Homo sapiens: one gene and its partners. The protein of the gene in region 2 interacts with the protein of the main gene of each other region in a pairwise test. Each region holds a gene or a part of one and is shown on either strand. Other genes may lie near its edges.

Evidence for each region. Proteins that work in one complex are often made in the same cells at the same time.
Region 1: the proteins of MAB21L3 (region 2) and ZNF165 interact in binary tests that used the Homo sapiens proteins (3 or more experiments, as listed by UniProt).
Region 3: the proteins of MAB21L3 (region 2) and BEGAIN interact in binary tests that used the Homo sapiens proteins (3 or more experiments, as listed by UniProt).

Annotation. Positions count from the first base shown.
Region 1 is NC_000006.12:28,076,513-28,083,604, forward strand, and holds the start of ZNF165 (zinc finger protein 165), read left to right. Parts: upstream 1-4,055; 5' UTR 4,056-4,458; exon of another isoform or gene 4,459-5,018; intron 5,019-7,092. UniProt on the Homo sapiens protein: May be involved in transcriptional regulation.
Region 2 is NC_000001.11:116,135,382-116,138,669, forward strand, and holds the end of MAB21L3 (protein mab-21-like 3), read left to right. Parts: 3' UTR 1-2,768; downstream 2,769-3,288.
Region 3 is NC_000014.9:100,584,381-100,591,527, reverse strand, and holds the start of BEGAIN (brain-enriched guanylate kinase-associated protein), read left to right. Parts: upstream 1-4,110; 5' UTR 4,111-4,237; coding exon 4,238-4,279; intron 4,280-7,147. UniProt on the Homo sapiens protein: May sustain the structure of the postsynaptic density (PSD).

The DNA of each region.
Region 1 (7,092 bases), on a different chromosome or scaffold from region 2:
GGCAGGCAGTGCCCCCATACCAATGGGAACCAAAGTGACACCAGTATGGTGTCATCCACCCCTATCACTGTAGAGTCTACGACTCCTCCCACACTGGGCAGAGGGTCTGGTACAGCTCTCCTGGAAGATTCCCAAGGAAACCAAAATTATTGTAGCAAGGCAGAGTTAATACCAGCTTTATTATGCCAGAGAGTGGGAGACGCCCTATGTGTTTCTAATAAGTTTTTGTCATTTCACTGTTAGCTTGAGTTGCCTTCTCCTTTTGCTGTTATATCATTCCCACTGGCACCTGGAAATCCTTCCAAAATGTTTTCCTGGCCTGGGGCCATCACACAGCCCATCTGCATGGCCAACCTAACTGCTGAGTGTTTGGTCTTATGCCCTTGAATAGCCATGTAGGAACTCCATGGTGGACTGAGCCACTACTGGGTAAAGACTGGATCTCTGTACAAACTTGGATGACCGGACAATGCATATAAATAGGTACCCTAGATTCCTCTAACACCACACATGCAAATGTGAGTGATTGAGATAGGACATTGAACAACTACAGACAAAATTTAAGTTTTTCCCTAAACATGTCCCATAGGAGGCAACCATCAAAGTGAAAACTGCCCTGAAGAGCACCAGGTTCTGGCAATGGAGATCATACTGGCAAATGTGGGATGGCTTTCTTTAGCTCATCCTTACAGCAAGGATGCTCTCGAGTTGCATAGATCTGTTGGGAACAACATAATCACTCTAAAGACATTCAGGTAATACCTAAGGTATTCTCCTAGTACCTAGATTTCCTCCCAATTGCCCAATGCCAACACACCATTATCCTTAAGGTCACAGATTGATTTGTCACAAACAGTCTTGTAGGCCAGGAATATACTGAATTGCCCCAGATGGCACCCAGTGGCTCTCTGCTACTAACCTCCAGCCCTGGCTTCCCCTGGGGTGGCTTGGATGACTCCAGAATCTCTGGCACCATTCCTGTATCCCTCAATGAGTCCATCTGGAGAGGTCAGTGGAGTAGACCTGTTTTTTCTTGGTGGGATTACTTATTGACTATATTTGTGCCTCCAGGAGGTTCTTCTGATACTGTGTAGAAGCTGGAAGCCCTTCAGAGATTTGTCTCCACAGCTTTGAACAACACCAAACATGGTATGGAGGCCTTGAACATTGAAACAGCTGCAGTGAAAAAAGTGGTCTACAAAACCAAATGGCCCTAGAGATGCTGACATCTGTGCAAGGGGGAACCTGTGCCCTTTACAAAAGTGAACATTGTGTGTATATTCTAGACAAAGAAGCTGAAGTTAATCAATCCGTCCTTCACTCACGAAAGCAATTACAGCTTACTGACCACATAGGGTATGCCTGGTGGTCTACACAAAGTCATGTTTTCCAGGATGGGGTCCTTGGTGGAAAGCTCTGCTAGGAAGCCTTTTGGAAAATGTGATTTTAGATTTTGTCAGGTGCACTTGTATTTACTGTTAGTGTAGGTTTTGTTTGCAGTGTTTCATAAAGCCAGGGGAAAGAAATTGCCGATGATCCCACCCTTTCTGACCAGCTCAGGGAACATATAGGAAGAGATGGGCATGTGAGATTGTAAGAGCCAGTCAGGAAAATGGATTGCAGGATCTCTGACTGGAAATCACAGAGCCTTGACTATTCTGTGACTGAAAATCAGAGTGCCTTGACCTCTCTGTGACCTAGCCAGCTGCAGATTTTTTCCCAGCATGCTTGAACCCAAACTTGGGTCTTGAACATTCCCAGGCACTGATAAAGGTATCTAAGTTGTCACTGAAAACAGTGAAAGAAACTAGCTCTGGCCCTGAGCCAAATTCTTTAAACCCTTATATAAACTCCATACCCTGACCCCCTCACTGCAGACATATCTAGGTAGAATGTCCCTTTTCTCTCACCACCCATGGGGAGGATTCCTGCAACACTATGTAAGTTCCCTTAATAAATGCTTTGGACAGATCACCTTGGCACATAGTGCTCCTTTCTTTGGAATCCCAACCAGCCCCAACTAGGACGGTTTTGGGCACTCCCTTGTGTGAACTCCCCTGCCACCACTTTTGGGGGACAAAACAGTACATATCTAATAGAATCATCTTGTTAAAAAGCAAGGGAACAACAAATACAAAATTTGTGATAGTGTTTCCTCGGATGAGAGGTAGTATAGAGAGGGACTAGAAAAAGAGTAGTATTAAATCTAAGTTGTTGTCAATCTACAGTTCTTATAGACTAGGTAATGGATTAAAAAATGTTCACACTTTAAGGCCATGCATGGACCAATGACAGCCAGTGGTTTTAATTAATACCATTTTGAATATCTGAGTTCCACTGGGGTAAGGGGATGAATCAAACAAGGCCTCAGAAGAAAAGTTGTCTGGGAATGCAGGAAGGTTTTGCAGAGGAGATGAAGTTTCAGTTGCAACCCTGCTGCGTGGGCTTCAATTTCACCACCTGAGATTTAAATAGAGGCAGGAGTCACTCAGGCTAGAATGCAGTGGTGCAATCACAGCTCACTATTGCAGCCACCACCTCCTGGGCTCAGGCGATCCTCCCACCTCAGCCTCCCGAGTAGCTGGGAGTACAAGTGCATTCCACAACCCCCGACTAATTTTTTTTTTTTTTAATTTTTGTAGAGACGAGGTCCCAACTATGTTGCCCAGGCTGGTCTCGAACTCCTGAGTTCAATTAATCCTCCTGCCTTTGCCTCCCAAAGCGGGGAATTAGAAAAGTGAGCCAACACGCCCGGCCCACTAGTGTTAAAAAATAAAAACAAAAGCAATAATCTGACAGATAGAGCCAGGGAGGGCTATGAAGAGACACTTCTCAGGCTTGTATGCCTCATAAGAAAACTATCACATATGACTGCAAAACCCATCTTACACCAAAAATACCTCTGCAAGGACATCCGCCCAGCAACTGTTTGTCTAACCTCAGACTGGTGTCATCCTCGTTACCGATCTTTGTAGTCAAGAATAATGATTTCAAAACAATTAAATAATCCTCCCCATTCTTCCTTTAAAAACCTTTGTCTTCCTTTACCTCCCTGAATAGAAACATAGTTTACTCTGGCACGTCTATTCTTATTGCAATTTCCTATTCCCGAATAAACTTTTTTTTTTTTTTTTGAGATGGATCCTTGCTCTGTCGCCCAGGCTGGAGTGCAGTGGCGTGATCTCAGCTCACTGCAACCTTCACCTCCTGGGTTCAAGCGATTCTTCTGTCTTAGCCTCCCAAGTAGCTGGGACTACAGGCGCCCACCACCACACCCAGCTAATTTTTATATTTTTAGTACAGACGGGGTTTCACCATGTTGGCCAGGCTGGCCTTGAACTCCTTGTTAAATACAGTGAGTTCTAAATTTCTCTTCAAAGAATCAGTATGTCAGTATGTTCAATTCTTTGTTCTCCATTTTAAACTTTAACTTCCTCATTTTCCTCGTCTCCTTGCCTCTAGTTTCAGTAAACAACCTTTTCCACCAGTTCTAATCAGTAGTTCACATCTGTTCCCCTGGTGACCTGCTCCGTCCTGAGTCACCCCTGGTCACCTGCTCTGACCTGAGTCACCTTTAGTCACCTGTTCCGTAACCGTCCTTCCCACTGAAACTGCTCACCCTACCACTCCGGCTCATACCCCTGCTCTCTTTAAAATAGCCAATCGGAATTAACTTAGACTGTGCGGTCCAACCCTAGCCAGTAGGGGAACGACACAGCACTAGGGACTACCTGCGTCAGGGATAAGAACCCCTTCCCCTCCCTTGTTCAGGTGTGCTCTCGCCATTGCTCCATCCGTGAGACGCACCCTTCTATAGAAGTAAATTGCTTTGCTGAGAAAATGTGTGCTCGAGTGTGTATCTTTTTCTTCTTCTTCTTTTTCTGAGACTGAGTCTCACTCTGTCACCCAAGCTGGAGTGCAGTGGCGCGGTCTCGGCTCACTGCAAGCTCCGCCTCCCGGGTTCAAGCGATTCTCCTGCCTCAGCCTCCCGAGCACCTGGAACTACAGGCGCGTGCCACCACGCCCGGCAATTTTTTTTTTTTTTTTTTTTTTTGTATTTTTAGTAGACACAGGGTGTCACCGCGTAAACCAGGATAGTCTCGATCTCCTGACCTCGTGATCCGCCCGTCTCGGCCTCCCAAAGTGCTGGGACTGCAGGCGTGAGCCACCGCGCCCGGCCAACGTCATTTTCTTTTCAGGAGTCCCTTCTGTTATTTAGCAAGACACACTACTACAATGGAGAAAAAAGATGCCCCCTCCTTCAAGCCCTGAGATCTTCAGGACTTTGGCGAAAAGTCTGCGCCCGAAGAGACCCAGGAAGGATTCTTGGAATTGTAGTCCAAAGGCATCCCGCCTTCTGCGCAGACTCACAAGTCCCTGTGGACGGAATTCTTGAAGTGTAGCGCCGCTCAGTCCTTCCACCGGAAGTGTCCGATCGGAATCAGCCCTGTCCGAGAGGTGAGTCCGGGTTTGGGGATCCAGATGTCCAGCCCCGTGTCCCCCTCCAAACATCCAGTCCCTCTCATATTGCCTTTGAAATTAGCAGCCTCTGGGTGACCAGACCTTGGCCCTCAGAGGAATCCCGGAGAAAGGTAGAACCAGCTTCGGCGTTGGGAACGCAGGCGCGCTTACGCATTTAGTGAGGGTTTGGCGGTCTCCATAGTTACCGCCGCCGCGCGTGACGTCATAGTGGAGCGCTGAGGGCTTGGTGGCGTGGGGTGGGGGCTGTCCTACTGATCCTGAATTTGGGGTCACTGGTAAGAGGAGTTGCCCATTCCAGCCAGGTGGAACGGGGAGGGGTGCCACATGTCTCAGATCTGCCATTGTCTGCGAAAAGAAACTGCTGCGAGGACCATCCCCAATCCCCTGCTTCCCTTGGGAAGAGTAACCGCCGTTTTGTAGGACACTTGGGGACAACCCCGCTTGTCCTGAAATTTATTGACACGGTAAATAGTATTTCCTGTGTGCCGAGGATGCAGTTAAACCAACACTGACCCCCTGCCCTTGAGAAACACAAGGTACTATGGGAGCCTTTACCAGCATGCCCCTTGAAGTCTCTGTTCTGCTTTGTGGTCTCTACCGGATTTCCCCTGACTGTCTCCCTCTCCACCAACAAAACTCTCACCCGTCTTCCCCTCCCGCAACATGCCCACCAAGACATGTTCATCCATCAGGAGCCCTGCTCTTTAACCTCCAACTTTCTCATCATAATTAATTACTCGTTCCTCTCTGTTCTCCTAGCGTTTCTTCACACATCTGCTTACCCATTTTTGTAAGTCCTCCTAACACAATATTATAAGGCACTAGATGCTCAATCAATATTTATTAGTTTAAAGCTACCAGCTTTAGGGGGACTCGGTTTTAAATAGATGAGAAGTGATAAAACACCTGGAGATAGTACTGTCAGCTGAGATAACATGTCATAGAACCAGCTGCTCAGCATAATTGAAATTTCATTCGGATTATATGGGCCTACTTTACACCCATCTTACTATGGTAAATGAGATCATGCTCATTAAGCATTAGGACACTACTTGGTTAGCGCATCTAGGAAACATAACCAGAAATATCAAAGAAATGGCCCAGTAAAATATAAGGGATTGAGACTCTCTGGTTAATATACCATGGAACTAACCCCCCTTTTTTTTCTTTATCATTGATAAATTTTGTTCTTACTTATACTCAAATTGTTTGTTTTCCAAGGTTCAGTCTGAACCTAGTGATATTTATTTCATACTCTTGGAGAATTAATACTGTTACATATCTTCAACTACCCTTTTCATGAATCTTGTCTGCCAAGACAAGCTCGGTCATGGAGACCCTAACCCAGTGGCGCTAGAGGAATTAAAGACACACACAGAAATATAGAGTGTGGAGTGGGAAATGAGGGGTCTCACAGCCTTCAGAGCTGAGAGCCTTGAACAGAGATTTACCCACTTATTTATTGACAGCAAGCCAGTGATAAGATTTACTGAAAGTATTCCTTACGGGAAATAAAGGGATGGGCCGAAATAAAGGGATGGGCTCTGGCTAGTTATCTGCAGCATGAACATGTCCTTAAGGCACAGATCGCTCATGCTATTGTTTTCTGCCCTGGGTGGGCCAGGTGTTCCTTGCCCTCATTCCAGTAAACTGACAACCTTCCAGCGTGGGCGTCAAGGCCATCATGAGCATGTCACAGTGCTGCAGAGATTTTGTTCATGGCCAGTTTTGGGGCCAGTTTATGGCCAGATTTGGGGGCCTGTTCCCAACACTTGTCAAAATCTGTCTTCCCATTCCAAATTCTTTTCCATTATTGAAATATCATTGTTTCTGTTGGAAATATTTTTCCAAGTAGATGTCTTATTATCATCTTAAATACAGATCATCCAAAACAGAAGTCATCTGAAACTTTCCTAATTTTTCCTTTCAATCATAAATATGAAGCCTTAAGAACAATTAATAATGCATGATCCTTAACCTCATGGAACATCAATCAGTTGATAAAAAAACAGCCAAACAACTAAAAATAATACAAGGACTTATATATTCATATGTGTATGTGTTAGGAATTGTAAGAACTCAGACTAGAGTTGAGCAATTTCTTAACAGAGGCAGTAGAATTCTTAGTCACTCCAGCCATCACACCCTGCAAGTTGATCTCACCATCAGTCTGCTGCTCATTCCTACTTCCTCTACTCTGTTCCTTTCCTTTCTGAATCTTTCTCATCCTTTATTGTCCAATTTAAGCCCCATGTTAAATACAGTGAGTTCTAAATTTCTCTTCAAAGAATCAGTATGTCAGTATGTTCAGTTCTTTGTTCTCCACTTTAAAGTTTAACCTCATCTCCTTGCCCCTAGTTTCAGTAAACAACCTTTTCCACCAGTTCCAATCAGTAGTTCACATCTATTCCCCTGGTCACCTGCTCTGTCCTGAGTCACCCCTGGTCATCTGCTCTGACCTGCATCACCTTTAATCGCCTGTTCTGTAACCGTCCTTCCCACTGAAACTGCTCACCCCGCCACTGTGGTTCATACCCCTGCTTTCTTTAAAACAGCCAGTTGGAATTAGCTTAGACTATGCAGTCCAACCCTAGCCAATAGGGGAACGAC
Region 2 (3,288 bases):
AATGGATAAATTCCTCAACACATACACTCTCCCAAGACTAAACCAGGAAGAAGTTGAATCTCTGAATAGACCAATAACAGGATCTGAAATTGTGGCAATAATCAATAGCTTACCAACCAAAAAGAGTCCAGGACCAGATGGATTCACAGCCGAATTCTACCAGAGGTACAAGGAGGAACTAGTACCATTCCTTCTGAAACTATTCCAATCAATTGAAAAAGAGGGAATCCTCCCTAACTCATTTTATGAGGCCAGCATCATCCTGATACCAAAGCCGGGCAGAGACACAACTAAAAAAGAGAATTTTAGACCAATATCCTTGTTGAACATTGATGCAAAAATCCTCAGTAAAATTCTGGCAAACCGAATCCAGCAGCACATCAAAAAGCTTATCCACCATGATCAAGTGGGCTTCATCCCTGGGATGCAAGGCTGGTTCAATATACGCAAATCAATAAATGTAATCCAGCATATAAACAGAACCAAAGACAAAAACCACATGATTATCTCAATAGATGCAGAAAAGGCCTTTGACAAAATTCAACAACCTTCATGCTAAAAACTCTCAATAAATTAGGTATTGATGGGACGTATTTCAAAATAATAAGAGCTATCTATGACAAACCCACAGGCAATATCATACTGAATGGGCAAAAACTGGAAGCATTCCCTTTGAAAACTGGCACAAGACAGGGATGCCCTCTCTCACCACTCCTATTCAACATAGTGTTGGAAGTTCTGGCCAGGGCAATTAGGCAGGAGAAGGAAATAAAGGGTATTCAATTAGGAAAAGAGGAAGTCAAATTGTCCCTGTTTGCAGACAACATGATTGTATATCTAGAAAACCCCATTGTCTCAGCCCAAAATCTCCTTAAGCTGATAAGCAACTTCAGCAAAGTCTCAGGATACAAAATCAAAGTACAAAAATCACAAGCATTCTTATACACCAATAACAGACAGAGAGCCAAATCATGAGTGAACTCCCATTCACAATTGCTTCAAAGAGAATAAAATACTTAGGAATCCAACTTACAAGGGACGTGAAGGACCTCTTCAAGGAGAACTACAAACCACTGCTCAATGAAATAAAAGAGGATACAAACAAATGGAAGAACATTCCATGCTCATGGGTAGGAAGAATCAATATCGTCAAAATGGCCAGACTGCCCAAGGTAATTTACAGATTCAATGCCATCCCCATCAAGCTACCAATGACTTTCTTCACAGAATTGGAAAAAACTACTTTAAAGTTCATATGGAACCAAAAAAGAGCCTGCATTGCCAAGTCAATTCTAAGCCAAAAGAACAAAGCTGGAGGCATCACACTACCTGACTTCAAACTATACTACAAGGCTACAGTAACCAAAACAGCATGGTACTGGTACCAAAACAGGGATATAGATCAATGGAACAGAACAGAGCCCTCAGAAATAACGCCGCATATCTACAACTATCTGATCTTTGACAAACCTGAGAAAAACAAGCAATGGGGAAAGGATTCCCTATTTAATAAATGGTGCTGGGAAAACTGGCTAGCCATATGTAGAAAGCTGAAACTGGATCCCTTCCTTACACCTTATACAAAAATTAATTCAAGATGGATTAAAGACTTAAACGTTAGACCTAAAACCATAAAAACCCTAGAAGAAAACCTAGGCATTACCATTCAGGACATAGGCATGGGCAAGGACTTCATGTCTAAAACACCAAAAGCAATGGCAACAAAAGCCAAAATTGACAAATGGGATCTAATTAAACTAAAGAGCTTCTGCACAGCAAAAGAAACTACCATCAGAGTGAACAGGCAACCTACAAAATGGGAGAAAATTTTCACAACCTACTCATCTGACAAAGGGCTAATATCCAGAATCTACAATGAACTCAAACAAATTTACAAGAAAAAAACAAACAACCCCAACAAAAAGTGGGTGAAGGACATGAACAGACACTTCTCAAAAGAAGACATTTATGCAGCCAAAAATCACATGAAAAATGCTCATCATCACTGGCCATCAGAGAAATGCAAATCAAAACCACAGTGAGATACCATCTCACACCAGTTAGAATGGCAATCATTAAAAAGTCAGGAAACAACAGGTGCTGGAGAGGATGTGGAGAAATAGGAAAACTTTTACACTGTTGGTGGGACTGTAAACTAGTTCAACCATTATGGAAGTCAGTGTGGCGATTCCTCAGGGATCTAGAACTAGAAATACCATTTGACCCAGCCATCCCATTACTGGGTATATACCCAAAGGACTATAAATCATGCTGCTATAAAGACACATGCACACGTATGTTTATTGCGGCATTATTCACAATAGCAGACTTGGAACCAACCCAAATATCCAACAATGATAGAGTGGATTAAGAAAATGTGGCACATATACACCATGGAATACTATGCAGCCATAAAAAATGATGAGTTCATGTCCTTTGTAGGGACATGGGTGAAATTGGAAATCATCATTCTCAGTAAACTATCGCAAGAACAAAAAACCAAACACTGCATATTCTCACTCATAGGTGGGAATTGAACAATGAGAACACATGGACACATTAAGGGTAACATCACACTCTGGGGACTGTTGTGGGGTGGGGGGAGGGGGGAGGGATAGCATTGGGAGATATACCTAATGCTAGATGACGAGTTAGTGGGTGCAGCGCACCAGCATGGCACATGTATACATATGTAACTAACCTGCACATTGTGCACATGTACCCTAAAACTTAAAGTATGATTAAAAAAAAAAAGTACTGTAACCAAATGGTGGGGTCCCTAGGCTATCGTTTAATAAGTAATGATTTTAAAATATTGAAAAAAAAATTTCCAAACCAACAATGAGTTTACAATTTTTGAAAACATGAAGGCTTGGTGCAGTGGCTCATGCCTGTAATCCCAGCACTGTGGGAGGCTGAGACAGGAGGGTCACTTGAGACCAGGAGTTCAAGACCAGCCTGGGCAACATAGCCAGACACTGACACCCCGTCTCTACAAAAAATTTAAAAATTAGCCGGATGTGGTGCTCAGGAGGCTGAGATGAGAGGATTCCTTGAGACCAGGAGTCTGAGGCTGCAGTGAGCTTTGATTGTACCACTGCACTCTAGCCTGGGTGACGGAGTCACCGGAAGGGAGACCCTGTCTCTAAAAAAAAAATTTAAAAAGAGCATATAAAATGGTGAACAAACTAACATTTTGTTAAATCATCAAAAATTTGTATTCTAATTCTCATATTCTTGTATCTTAGGAAACATCATTTTTGAAAAGGTGGCAAATGTAATAAGGTT
Region 3 (7,147 bases), on a different chromosome or scaffold from region 2:
TGGACACTCCACAGAAGGGCATCTCAGGATGAGGGAACTCCCTGTGCAAGGACCCGGAAACAGAAGGTATGGACAGGGATGATGTAGCCGGAGCTCAGCCTGGCTGGGGAGGGCACCACAGCAGCAGCAGGGCCGAGCCTGGCCCAGGACCTAGCAGGTGGGCCCCTGAAGGAGCCCAGACCCCCAGGTGGCCTTGGTGAACCCCTGCTGACTGTTCGCAGCAGCACGCACACCCAGTGGCAGTTTCTGTCTTAGTGAGGCCACCTCGGTGCCATCCCCTGCTCTGTGTCCGCTCCCCTTGCCCAGGCTCAAGCATGGGAGGCCCAGGATGGTGCCCTCCGTACCCAGGCCCAGGGCATAAAGAGATAAGCCCAGTCACACTGAGATGAGATGGGATTTTGCTTGACAAATATTTGTTTGAAAATGGTTTCCCCTATTTACAGTTTTGAAGCCCAAGCCACAGCATCCAAACCACCTCCACCTGCTGGAAAGGCCTGACAGGGGCAGAGGCCCAGGGAGGAGGCCACTGCTGCTTCCCATGGAGACAGAGCAGGGCAGGCAGTGGGGTGGAGGCCAAGGGGCTCACAGCACCACCCCAGGAGGAGCAGTGGGCCAGACCCCTGGGCCTGGGACCTGCCTCGGACAGAGCACCTACGAGGCTCCCAGCTGCCTGTGCCCGCTTCCTACGGTCCCAGGCCCCCCTCATCGTTGCTCCCAGGACAAGCAGGTGAAGGAACAGGGCAGCGGGGTACGGTTAGGGTTAGGGCTGGGGTTAGGATTAGGGTTAGGATTTGGTTTGGGATTAGGGTTAGGGTCAGGTTGGGATTAGGCTTAGGTTTGGGGTTGGGATTATGGTTAGGATTTGGGCTAGTGCTTGGGGTGTTTTTGGCAGTGTTTAGTGTTAGGGTTAGGGCTGGGTTGGGGTTTGGTTTAATGTTCCTTTTGGGATTTGGTTTTGGGTTGGCGTCTGGGTTAACTTTAGCGTGTGGTGTGGGTTGAGGTTATTGCTTTCTGGCAGGACAGTGTTGGGGTTAGAGTCGGGTTTAGGGTTCATGTTACTGTTCAGGCTAGCATTGGGGTAGGGTTAAAGTTTGCTTTGGTTTTGGGTCCCATTAGAGTTAGGTTTAGCATTTGATATAGGTTGGAATTTGGGTTAATATTGCAGTTGGGGTCATTGTTAGATACACACTTGGGCCAATTCAGGGCCTTCTCACCACCTGTGGAGGGCAGCTGTAGCCCGATTCTGCAGGGGACTCCAGAGTTTCAGTTGGAGCACCTGTTGTTTGTGGGAGAGTGGGAAGATACCTCTCACCTTCCCATTCTCTAGGGCTCATAGTCAGAACCCTTGCTCAATCTGTTCTTGTGGGTGGGGATTGGAAGATGAGGCAGGGAACTGGTCAGCATGGCTAGCTGATGCTGGAGCCCCTGTATGTGGCTGTCTGCGGGTGCCTCACTGTCAATGACTTCCCTGACGTGCTGTCCTTTCTTTTATACTCAGCCACCAGGGCCAGAAGCCTGGCATCACACCAGGCTATTCCTATCTCCCCCACCTCCATCCATCCATGCATTCTTTGGCACATTTAACCATGAGCCCCAGTGTGGTGCCACTTCCTGCCCTGCTCCCTGACCACAGTAGAGGACCACGCATCCCAGCGGGGAGATTGATGTCCACATCAACAGACAGATCAGATAGCTCTGGAACGCAGTAAGAGACACGCAAAAAACAAAATAGGGCAACGAGATTGAGCCATGGGGATGGTGATGTCAAACAGAGTGGTCCGTAGAGGTCTGAATGAGGGCAGGGGCCTGAGGAGAGGGTCCTCCATGGCCCCAGGGCATCACCTCGAAGTCCTGCCACTTTCATCCCTTCTTCCCAACCCGGCTGAAACCTTGCCTCCTCCAGGAAGCCTGCCTGATGCCCCAGGCTCTGCTGCACTGACTGTAGTTTCCCCATCTGCAAAAAGGGGCTAGTACCACTTCCCCTACAGGGGCATTGCAGGGATGCTCCCAGACCCACAACCAATGCCTGCTTTCTCTCCGCCTTCCTAGCTTAAGGGGGCTGGAGTGGGAAGGATAGAAGAGAGGGCAGGGAGGGTGGGGACGGGAGGTGCGTGCAGCATGGGGGAGGGGCTCTCCTGGGGCCTTCCCAGGCAGGCCTGAGCTGAAGCCTGCAAGCTGCTGGAGCTGAAGCAGGAGCCGCCCCCACCCCACCCGCCCCTCCCCCGCCTCCCCAGCCATCTGTGGCGTTGGCAGCAGCAGTGCCAGGGCGGGCGGTGAACATTCTGGCACCATCTGAGCAGGACCAGCCTCTGGGGAAGGGCCGCAGCCCAGGAGGAGGCAATGTGGGCAGAGCCCTGCCTGTACCCCAGGTTCCACATCCCCCATTGGTGTTTGTCCCCTTAGGGACTGGGGAGGGAAGGGACACTGGAGCTGGCAGGCTGGGCCTCACTACCTCTCACAGGATGCCTCCACTGCTGTGTGCTGCCTGAATGGTGTCTGAACCTGAGAGGCCAGAGTGGAGGTCAGGGAGCCTGTCCCTACTCCTGCTGGGGAGACTAAGGCCCCCTTGAGCAAAGAGGCTGGTCCCGTGGTGCACACCAGCGACGGTTTGGGCGAAGTCTGTCCACGCTTCGCCCAAACTGGGAGAGCCCCGCCCTGAGCTGCCGCCTCTCATTTTGTCTTGACTGTGGTGGGGTGCACTTGGAGGCGCCTCCCTCTGTCCATTGGTTACCCAATCATGTCCCTGGGACCTGAGAGGGAGCAGAGACAGGACTTTGCTTGACACGAAGTGGCTCCAGTCAGCTGCTGGTTCTTTTGCTTGTCTCCTTTTTTTCTGGGTTTCCCCTCTTGCCTTGCTATCAGTGCCTTTTCTCAGCACTGACACTGCCTGAATGTAGCAACCTACTCCCCAGATTAAATGAGAGAGCGTAGAAACTGCAAAGCATACAACATACAGCATATAAGGATGGTGGTGATGGCAGCTCAACAGTGGGAACTCAGTGTCCCCAAACTGTACACTTTAAAAGTGGTTAAAATGGTAAATTTTATGTTTTCCATGTTTTCCACAATTAAAAAACAAAAATATACAAGGTACTCATTCGCAGCATCTTCTAATCTGCCATGTACTTGGAAATGATATAAGCATGTGTGAACCATGAGCCCATAGGTCCCGAGGGAGGATATGAGCGAAGCACACGGGCTTTGCCAGCTCTGTTTCCACCACGCAGGACCCTCCCTGGCTGCCAGTGCTCCTCCCCGGGTTCCCACGCTGGCTGCTGCTGGGCTGGCTGGGATGGAAGACCCTCATGTAGCTGGCACCCTCAGGGCTGCCCCTTGCCCGCTCTGGGAGGAGAGAGGAGGGTTCACGCTGCACCTTTACCAGGGTAGGACTGGCCAGCCTGGGCTCTACCGGGCAGGTCGGTGGGATGCTTCAGACTGGAGGGATAGGCAGGGGGCAACACTGGTCCTCCTGAAGCCACCTTCCCTTCCTGAGAGCTCCTTGGGGAGAAGGCAAGCCCTGGAAGCCACCGACTGGGGGCTCGGGCAGAGCAAGGGCAGGGTAAGGGGCAGCTTGGCCAGGAGGCACCCTTGGGAGCCAGGGTTTCCTCATCTGTAAAATGTGACTCTGCGAGGGCAGGAGCTTGGTTTCACTCGCTACTGTACCCCCTGGGGCCTACAGCAGGGCTGGTTGGTACACACTAGGTGTCTAATAAATGTTGAGGGATTGAATGGATGGACCGATGAAAAGGTTGGGCAGGTCATTACTGACAGCCTCTGGGTTTCAAGGGCCCATTCACTCTGTCACTCACCTTCGCGCCCGTGCATTAGTTCTCTCATTTATTCATTCCCCCCGCCCCCCCAGCCCCGCATGCTCTACCGCACTCATTCATTCACGCGCTCAGCCATTCAAGCTGGCGCGGGTTCATTCATTCCCTGCCCCTCTGCCATTCCTCGCCTGGCCCCCGCGCACGCCGCACCCCCGCGCCCCTGCCCGGCCCTGCGCCCACCACTTGCGCCCCGGCCGGGCGCTGCCGGGAGGACGCGCGGGCTCAGCCGCGGCTGCGCGGGGCCGGGGCTGGCGGGGAGCCGGGCTGGGGGCGGGGGGCGGGCGCTCCCTGCGGGAAGCCGGGCGGGGTGGGGGAGCCCCGGCCGCGCCGGCTCCCGGCGCGCTCGGCCTCGGAGGGGAGGGGGCGGCGGTAGCGGCGGCGGCGGTGAGCGGCGCGGCTGCCCTGGGGCCATGTGGACTGGCGGTCGCCGGCCGGGCCGGCTGCGCCGGGCGGTGAGTACCTGCGAGCCGGGAGGGCAGGGCGCGGGCGCGGGCGCGGAGGCGGGGCGGGCGCCACCCACGCCTGGGGCGGTCCCTGCTCAGCGCGGGAGGTGGCCGGCCCCCCGCCCCGCTCCCCTCCGCGCTGCGCCCCCGCCGTGGAGGCTTCACTGGCCCGGGAGGAGCCGGGCCGGGTCTCCTGGGAACTGGGCACTCTCGGGTGGGGCGGGGATGCCCAGCCTCCGCGCGCCGCCGGGAGCGCCCGGGTCCTATCGCGGGGTCCTTGCGCCCTGACACGCGCGCCCCTGCGGCGGAAGGAAAGGAGGGACGGGTGACCAAGGGCGCGGCCGGAGGACTGGGGACCCGCCGCTGTCCCGGGCGGGTGGCGAGGGTGCGGGCAGGCCTGGACCCGCCTGCGTCTGGGGGCAGGGCCAGCCCCTGCTTGGGAGGCCGGAGAAAGGCCCGGGAGCCGGAAGGAGGCTGGACCCGGGGCCGCCTCATTGAGCGTTTGCAGCGCGTGGGCGCGCACGAACCTCGGACACCACCATCCCATTCAGTACCTCGCGGCAGGTACTATCCTCCTGCCCCTTTACAGGCGAGGAAACTGAGGCTCAGGGAGGCCAGGGCCTCGCCCAGAGCGGCTCAGCCGGCGCGCTCACCCTCCCTGAGCCCCAGCACGTTGGATGGGAATTTCTGCCCCAGCGTTTCCGCTTCCTGCTTGGTTTAGAGGTGTTTCCTTCCTCGTCTGTGCCCCACCCCATCCCCAATGTGGTTTCCTCAGGGCAGGAACAGCGTGGGCGACGCGCTGGAGTCTCCTGAGCCGGCAGAATGGGAGCAGAGTGGGCACCCGGGAGCGGGGCCGGATGGATAGGGAGCACTGCACGTGCAAAGTCCGCATGGCCAAGGTCGGCCGCCAGTGCAGACTGGGGGTCCAGGCCCTGGGGGTATGGGTGGGGCGGGGTCTCCACAGCCAGGCTCCGTCGGAGGCCCCAGTGCTCTGGCTCTCTGGAGGCCATGGACAGGTTCTTTTCCTTCTCTGGACCCTAGTTCCTCTGCCTGCCAAGAGCAGCAGAGACCCCCACTACTCCCAGGGCCAGGCTCCCACGAGGACTGTGGGCAGAAGCCCCTAACAAACTGCGGTGTGCAGCCCTGCCAGGCTGGCCTTGGTCTTGCCAGCAGGGGCAACTGGCCGTTGGGGGTGGCTCTGCCTGGCATCTGTGACACGCAGGGCGGGGAGACGGCAGAGAGGGCCCCAGCAGCATCCTGCAAACCCTTAATTTTCCCGACTCTCACTATAATCAGGGCAGCTTGGAAAAGCAAGCACTGTGGCAGATGCGGCTCTGCCCGGGCTCAGCACACGGGCTCTGGGCGATGGGCGGCTGCGCTGCCGCCAAGGGCCCTCCCCAGCTTTTGTCTCATATTTATAGATTCCAAGGCTCCGCGTTCCGTTTGTCGTCAAAACCTGGAGCTGTTCGCACCTGGGAGCTGAGTGGGGAGGGGAGGGCTGCCTAGAACCTCAGCCTGGAGGATGAGTTTTCCATGCGCTGGGGTGGAGTAGGGGGACACCTGTCAGAGCCCAGGCCTGGAGAGAGGAAATGAGCCCTAAGCAATCTGGAAGATCTTCCATCCACTCTCCCAAGACTTGGGCGCAGGGTCTGGCCCACATAGCTGCCATTTATGGAACGCCTGCTATGTACTGGGCCCTGGATCAGCATTTCCACGCATCATCTCCACGGCAACACTTTGAAGGAGCTTCCCTACTCCTGCAGGCACTCCTGATGCTGAAGAGTGGATGGATGGATGAATGGATGGATGGATGGATGGATGGATGGATGGATGGATGGATGGGAGGGAGGGAGGGATGGATGGGAGGGATGGATGGATGGGAGGGAGGGAGGGAGGGATGGATGGATGGGAGGGAGGGAGGGAGGGATGGATGGGAGGGAGGGAAGGAGGGATGGATGGGAGGGATGGGAGGGATGGATGGATGGGATGGATGGATGGATGGATGGGAGGGAGGGAGGGAGGGAGGGATGGATGGATGGATGGATGGATGGATGGATGGATGGGAGGGATTGACTGAAGCCCATGAGTCCATGGCTATTGGACACAGTCCACAAATCATTACCCAGGGTCCCAGGAGGTGGGGTCCAAGGGCTGAGTAGTTGCTGAACAGATGAAGGGGTCAAGGTGTGTTACAGGAGCCTGGCCCAAGGCCTGAAGGTGATGGGGAGAGTGTAGAGTGTTCAAGTCTCAAGACTTAGAGAGGCTGTGTCCTGCTGGAGTGTGGAAGCCATGGCGGTGGGGAGGTGTGGCTCCTCCCCCTAAGGGAGGTAAGGATCCCTGGGACAGATGGGTGGGTGACCCTAGGACTCGCCGTGTTGGTCTAGAATCACCCCGCATGGTTCTCTTCTGACTCCCCTTCCTGCCGCAGAGCTGGTCGCTAGCCTTAGTGGAGAGGCCTGGACGGAGGTCTGCAGCCCTGGGTTCTGGTTCCTCCTCTGCCGCTGACTCACTGTCTCCTCTCTAGGGCTCCGTATCAGAAGCTTAACACCCATTACAGTCAGGGGAGTGACTTCTGTGGCCTGAGAGCAGGCATCAGATTGTAGCCTGTGGTGGGAGAAGCTGGCCAGAGGTGTCTCTATTGCTTTAATCATTATAGGAATGAATGAATGAATGAATGATGAATGACTAAGTGTGTGAATTCTACACTCACCTAACATGCTGTACCTAAGCACCCACTCTGCACTGCTCATTGGGGTCACTTAGGTGAGTCTGACACAGACCTTGCCCTCCACGAGTCCACAGTTTGCTGGGAGACATGGACCTTGGCCAGTACGGCAGGAGTCAGGAGCTGCTGGGGCTCTTCTCTCCCCTCTAGCC